Linked DNA regions of Homo sapiens. The protein of the gene in region 1 interacts with the protein of each later gene in a pairwise test. Each region holds a gene or a part of one and is shown on either strand. Other genes may lie near its edges.

Evidence for each region. Proteins that work in one complex are often made in the same cells at the same time.
Region 2: the proteins of WT1 (region 1) and IDI1 interact in a two-hybrid assay, tested with the Homo sapiens proteins (one large-scale study listed by BioGRID and IntAct).

What each region holds. Positions count from the first base shown.
Region 1 is NC_000011.10:32,415,040-32,418,539, reverse strand, and holds part of WT1 (Wilms tumor protein), read left to right. Parts: intron 1-885; coding exon 886-963; exon of another isoform or gene 964-1,116; intron 1,117-1,999; coding exon 2,000-2,050; intron 2,051-3,500. UniProt on the Homo sapiens protein: Transcription factor that plays an important role in cellular development and cell survival. Recognizes and binds to the DNA sequence 5'-GCG(T/G)GGGCG-3'. Regulates the expression of numerous target genes, including EPO.
Region 2 is NC_000010.11:1,042,620-1,046,119, forward strand, and holds part of IDI1 (isopentenyl-diphosphate Delta-isomerase 1), read right to left. Parts: intron 1,583-3,500; exon of another isoform or gene 1,553-1,582; coding exon 1,380-1,552; exon of another isoform or gene 891-1,379; coding exon of another isoform or gene 869-890; intron 775-868; coding exon 682-774; intron 144-681; coding exon 13-143; intron 1-12. UniProt on the Homo sapiens protein: Catalyzes the 1,3-allylic rearrangement of the homoallylic substrate isopentenyl (IPP) to its highly electrophilic allylic isomer, dimethylallyl diphosphate (DMAPP).

The sequences.
Region 1 (3,500 bases):
AAAGTGTTTAGACCAAGAGGTCCCAGAAAAACTCTTGGTCTCTTGGGTCTCAAATTTCATAATTAACCATTTCAGTTCAGGCATAAATTTATTCCTGATGGAGCTTGGTAATTTAGGAGATTTCTGGCAATTGATTCATGTGCTAATTTTCTAGGAATGAGATAAATACAGAGGGGACAGAACAGCTTTTTGTTGGTTTACATAGCGGTGTAAGACTTCTTTGGAGTCTTAATGTAAATGATAAGCCATTTCCCTCATAGAGTCTTATAGAACTGGGCTCTTTTTTTTTTTTTTTAATTTGACTTGTACCAGGATTATAAAACATATAGAAAATGATTCCTTCCGCTGTGCATAGAGTTTATCATCGTCTTTCTTCTGCTTGTCACATCCTTGCTTTTTAGACCATTTATCACCCATCACTCTGACTTTTCAGACCCTCATAATCCACATGATACTTATCCTTTTGATTAAAACAACTTAATGGCCTTTTCACGAATAATTAATCTGCTGTCTTTACTTTCAGCTCCAGGCTTTTAACTTTAATGTTGAGTTATCCAGCCTGTGTTGCCTTTCAAAGTTTCACTCCCCTTAGCCTTTTCCCCTCAAAGGTTTAATACTTCTTTAGAAACTTCAATAGTTGCTATACAAAGGTTTTAAAAAATGCTTCTGAGTTACTCTCACATCCCTTCTGCTGTGTATGAAGTGTATAACTGTGCAGAGATCAGTGGGATGAAATGAAAATAATTCAGATTTGCATATTCTGTCATTCTGGAAAATGTGGAGGCTTGCACTTTCAAGAAAAGTTAAAACTCCATTGCTTTTGAAGAAACAGTTGTGTATTATTTTGTGGTTATGTGTTTCTAACTCTAGATGTTTTTCTAACAGTGACAATTTATACCAAATGACATCCCAGCTTGAATGCATGACCTGGAATCAGATGAACTTAGGAGCCACCTTAAAGGGGTAAGGTTTTCTCTATTCCATTGCCTTTCCACAGTAACTTATACCTGTTTGAACCATTTCAAAGGTGCTTAGAACTTATGAAGAAAGTACAGTTTTAGAAGAAAGGGCAAAGCTCTCTGTGACATTAGAACGCTTTCCTCCTTCCCCTAGTTGGTGAGTTGTGTTCAGTATTAAATTTTCAAAAACATAAATGTGGGTTGTTTCTATCTGGAACAAGGAATATTGAGGACACTTATTATGGTCTTGTTGAATGTTTTATAATTCTTCAAAGGCTATTCAACCTCATTTAATAATTGTGTTTTACTATGATATCACAGTTGTTAACCATTCCACTATCTTATCAAGAAGTGCTTTGGGTGTGCAAAGTCCGGGATCCAAATTTGTATTTGTGTGATGCTGATCTGGGCAATTCACAGTCAGATACGCCCATACCTGATTGCACCAACAGGGTTTTTCTTTCCATACTTGATAATACAACCATAATAGGGAGAATACAGCCAGGAAACATCAGAAGGAGCTACTCTTTGCACCTAAAAATGAAAAAATAAAAAAAAGAAGGCAGGTGGGACTTGCTTTCACCATTGAAAGAGCTCACTTTTCATTTTCTACCAAGTGTGAAGAGATGGGCAGTAGCATAGAACACTCATGAAGTGCCTGCAGCGTGTCAGGTGTCCTTCCAGGTTACCTCATCTTATCTTCCCAACACTCTCATGAGAGCTAAGTACTGCTTGGTTTACAGATAAGTAAACCAAGCTCAGAGGGTTAAGTTACTTCCCAGGTTCACATCCTACTAAGTGCTAGAGCTGGGATGCCAAGTCCAGATCTGATTCCAAAGCCCAAGCTCTTTGCAGCCTCCGGTGGTGCCTTCCACCCCACCATTGGCCCCAGTGGGACTGGGGACTTAGTTCAGCACTCTTGATAGCTAGCTTGATGTCTCTGTGTATTGAGGGGCTTTTCACTGGATTCTGGGATCTGGGGGGCTTGCCAGATCCATGCATGCTCCATTCCCCACTCCCCACCTCTTCTTCTTTTCTAGAGTTGCTGCTGGGAGCTCCAGCTCAGTGAAATGGACAGAAGGGCAGAGCAAGTGAGTGGACAATGCGGAGATGGCAAAGCAAATGGCGTAGGCCTTGCTGACTGGCACCTGGGGCAATGCAGGAGTTAGGACTGACGTGGGTAATCAGGGTAGCATTTGGTGGATGGGAAGAATCTCTCTCCCCCGCCCCCACCTCTTCTTATTCATCATACACATGCTGGGGACAAAATGGAGGGAGTAGCATTTCTCATCAACATGCCCCTGGAAAACAATGTAAAAAATTATGCAGCATCCTGTTCATTTCTTTGTGAATACTTCACAAAATACTAAATACTAAATTTGTGGCATTACAACCATAATGCCACATGTTCCTGTTAGATCAGTCAAAGCTTTCAGTCTTAACTTGCTTCTTCTTTATTTACCTTTAAATCTCTCAGGGAGAACTTACCCTAAGTCTGAGGCCAGGCTTTGAAAAGACTTGTTTTTTGTTGTTTTTCAAAGTTTGTTTTTATTCCCAAACATTCGCACCTTCCCCAGCCCTGTACCCTGCACCTTGGGGAATTTCTGTAGCTGTTTCTTTTTCTTCTCTCTGCTTTAACTCCACAACCAGCCGCCCTCTTTTCTTCTTTATTGTGTGGGCCCAGTCCTGTTATTTGGTTCATCCTTCAGTAATCAACAGAGTTGTATTTCATCTTCCAAGACTTACTGTTAGGTTCTTCACCTCACCCCCGCCCCCAAATTTTTCAGCAGTTTTATCCAGATCTCCTCTTCCTCTCTCTGGACCACAAAGAAAAGGCTTTCTGTTGTTTTAAATTATTTCTCTCCTGTCTTCCATCTGGGGGACTGCTGACAGTTTTAGCATTCTGTCTTTCTACCCATTCTCTTTTCTTTTTGAGACGGAGTTTAGCTCTTGTCGCCCAGGCTGGAGTGCAATGGTGCCATCTCGCTCACCGCAACCTCCACCTCCCGGGTTCAAGCGATTCTCCTGCCTCAGCCTCCCCAGTAGCTGGGATTACAGGCATGTGCCACCACGCCCGGCTAATTTTGTATTTTTAGTAGAGATGGGGTTTCTCCATGTTGGTCAGTCTGGTGTCAAACTCCCGACCTCAGGTGATCCGCCCACCTTGATCTCCCGAAGTGCTGGGATTACAGGCGTGAGCCACCGTGCCTGGCCTTTCTACCTGTTCTTAACTCGTCTTAAGTTCCTTGGCTTCTTGGTCCCACCCTTTCTTTCTGGCTCCCTTCCTTTTCTCCTTTCTCCTCTCCTCAGAACTTGATAACCTTCCCCAAGCTAAATAGCAAGGATAGACAGAACATGATTGTGAAGTGAGCAGTACATTTCAGTTTCAAAAACTTCTTCATGCTGTAATACAGGGGCTTGTTTGTTCAGTTACAAAAATTACAGATAAGGAATTTGGCATGTATTTGCAGCTGGATATTTCCATGGTTAAGATAATTTCGATACTTTTTAAGGTCTTTAGACATGTACTGTTAGTCACTT
Region 2 (3,500 bases), on another chromosome or scaffold:
AGAGCTGGTTACCTCTTCCAAGGGAATTCCTAGCTCAGCTTTCAGCCGTCTCTGTGCTGCTCGCCTCACTCCAAGGGCGTCACTTTCCTCAAGCTCGGCTGGATTGCTTAATGGATGACTACAACACGTATTCGTAAAACAACCTGGAAAATGGTAATACAGAGACAGATCAACTTTTCTTCAAAGTAGGTCTGAAAGATCAAGAAAAAGTTTTATAAGTAACTGAAAAATGAAATGATTTTTAAGGATTTTAAAATCAGTTATAATGGGCTATCAGTAATTATTTTAAGGATTTTAAAATTGGTTATAATGGGCTATCAGTAATTATTTTAAGGATTTTAAAATTGGTTATAATGGGCTATCAGTAATTATGTTGTGAAACAGACTACATTTGTAGGTAGGTTCCTTATTAATACTTCTTTAACCAAAAAAGATCAAAGTGTAGATAATACAGATTAAAGATAAATATGTAAATTATACATATTGCCCAATTGCTTACTAGTTCTTATTTTTTCTTGCTGTTGTATTAGGTTGCACTCATTGTGTAAACTCACTTTATGCAGAATATAAAATTATGCCATTCACAGGATTTCCCTTTGTGACCTTGGCTCCAAGAATTCAGAATGATAAAAAGTCAAATTAATGTACAAACACAATATTGTACATTAAAAGTGTACTAACCTGGAAAGGTAATCTTAGCATCTGATCTTTGCTGTAGCAGAAGCTTATTTTCGGTGTTGAATAAGAAGACACTAAAAGCTCGATGCAATAATCCTGAAAGCAAAAGAAATAACAATTATTTTAGCCTTAAGTACCAGTTATTTGCCAAATTCTCTCCCTGCAGTTCAGAATAACATTAGTAACTTGCTGCTGCTTTTGCTTTTTCCCATGGTTTATCCACATGCATAGTCTCTGCATGGCTATGGTGAGGAAGAGCTCTGCACTGGGCAAGGAAGTTGGCCGTCGAGTGAAGGAAATGGTGATGCTGGTGGCCCCTTTCCGGCAGTCAAGTTCCCTATCAAGGACATTCAGTTCTCGGAAAGTGGTGAAGGCACATGCTTCCCTGCATGGTGCCCGCCTCTCTCCACTCTCTAGAAATATTAGAGGCTAGGCTGCTGCTGTATGTCAGGGCTAGTCCCTCTTCTATGAATCCAGAATAACTCTGAAGAAGCCGAGTAACAGGCATGAAGTGAAGAGAAATCGCTGTAACAGGAAGACAGCAAAGCAGATGCTAATGACCACACTATTTAACGAACTGGAACCAACGAGAAAATACGGTATTACTGAAGACTGCACTTCCTTGAACAGAGTGCTCTTCTCAGCAAATCGGAAATGCCTACACAAATCGCTTTACAAGAAAGACTGTTTCAAAGCAGCACCTTTCTCAATGTTCTCGTTCAGGTGACAATTCTTCTTGGTCTCAGCTCCAATTTTATTGTCATTTTCATCAATAAGGATACACATCTCTGCCAGGAGTTGAACCTGTTGCTTGTCGAGGTGGTTAGTGTTTATTTCAGGCATCATTACAAAATGTCTGATCTGTTCTAGAACACTAATATTAAAGGAAAAGAGAAAGAAAGGCCATCATATATTTTTCTGAATGTCATATAAACACAGGTTAATAATGATGCTGCTTCCCCATCTGCAGTTGTACCACTCTGCATCCCCACAGGGACCCCAAGAACGCTGCCAGCCGGCTGCTCAGCACTATCTGGGTCATCATTTCTCCTACAGGTTTCACAGCTGGCCTTTTATCACAGTCATGCTCCTGAAGGCCAAGCTCAACGTTCCGCTCTAAATTCTTGACCTCTGAGATCCTCTGCAGCACTTGATACTCAATCCTTTTTCCAGTGTACTTTTCTTCTCTGGTTTTTGGCCCCAACCTAACTTTTCATCCTGCTTTTCTACACCAGCTTCTGTAATCTCTAGAATGTGCTCCCATTGCCATCCTGAATTGTTTTTCCCACTGCCTGTCTCTGCATAGTTGCTCAAGATTGCCACAGGCCAATCTTGGTTGAAATCCATTTTTTCAAGGCACAACTCGTGCCAGACATTCAATAACCTTTCTACCAATGTCACAGTAAGACTTAATCCAGTTTTTCTCAACCCAAGCTCCTGGGTTATCAGAAAAATTATTTGTATGAGTTTTGTCAATTTCCCCCAGGACAGTACTTAGCTGATATCATTCTAGATAAACAGGAGAAGACTTAATTCGTTATATTCAATAGATGCTTTAAGGCAGTGCTTGGCAAGTTTTTTCTGTGAAGGGCCAGAGAGTATGAACTCTGCCTCTGTAACACTAAAATAGTCACAGGCAATAGGTGAACTGGGCAGTATGTAAACTGAGTGTGGGTGCATGCCAATATTTATGGACACTGAATTACATTTAATTTTCATGTGTCACAAAATATTTTGATTCTTCTCCATCCGTTTAAATATGAGAAAAACACTCAGCTCACAGGACGTAACAACAGGCAGCAGGCCAGATTTGGCCTATAGGCCATAGTTGGCCCATTCCTACCTTAGTGCATCAAACATTAATTTTCTGAACCCCCATTTATCCCTCCCATGTGATTACAACGTAAAGCACTTATTAGGGTACTTTCAGTATTCTGACTCACACTTTTACATATCTGTATCCAGCAGCGTCTAAGCTTTCTAATCTTTGTATCCTTCAGGGCACCTTTACATAGTCTGACCTTGAAGTTTTTTATTCCCTTTTTTCTTCTCCTTTATTTCTGAATGAATAATAATTTTTGTTTTCTGATTTTTCTACCCAATATATTTTGAAGATCCCATGTGCTCTACTTTCTATGTGACTCTATTTCAAATACATAGATTTTACTGAAATACTTTTTTGTTTCTGAGAGGGAGTCTCGTTTTGTTGCCCAGGCTGGAATGCAATGGTGCAATCTCAGCTCACTACAACCCCCACCTCCTGGGTTCAAGTGATTCTCCTGCTTTGACCTCCCAAGTAGCTGGGACTACAGGCGTGCACCACCACGCCAGGCTAATTTTTGTATTTTTAGTAGAGACGAAGTCTTGCCATGCTGGCCATGCTGATCTCGAACTCCTAACCTCAGGAGATCTGCCTGCTTTGGCCTCCCAAAGTGTTGAGATTACAGGAGTGAGCCACCACACGGGGACCACTGAAATACTTTCAACAGAGTTCAAGCATACTGCAGAATGTACACAAAGTGTTTAAACAGCTACTTAATACAAAGTTCTAGACCCACATAGGGTCTGGGTGTGTGTGTGTGTGTGTGTGTGTGTGTGAATGCGTGTGTCAGGAGTCAGTGATGATGGAGATATTGATATCTAATACAAAAAATCTGAAATAAGGTTAATGATTAAAACAAATCAAGAGGGAAAATAATGTGAAAAGGAAGTCAACTTCAGAGTTAGCCTCAATTTTAGAAAGATTTCCAACTTCTATAGGCTAGTTTTATATACAGTCATCCTTTGGTATATATGGGAGTTAGTTCCAGGACCTCCCACAG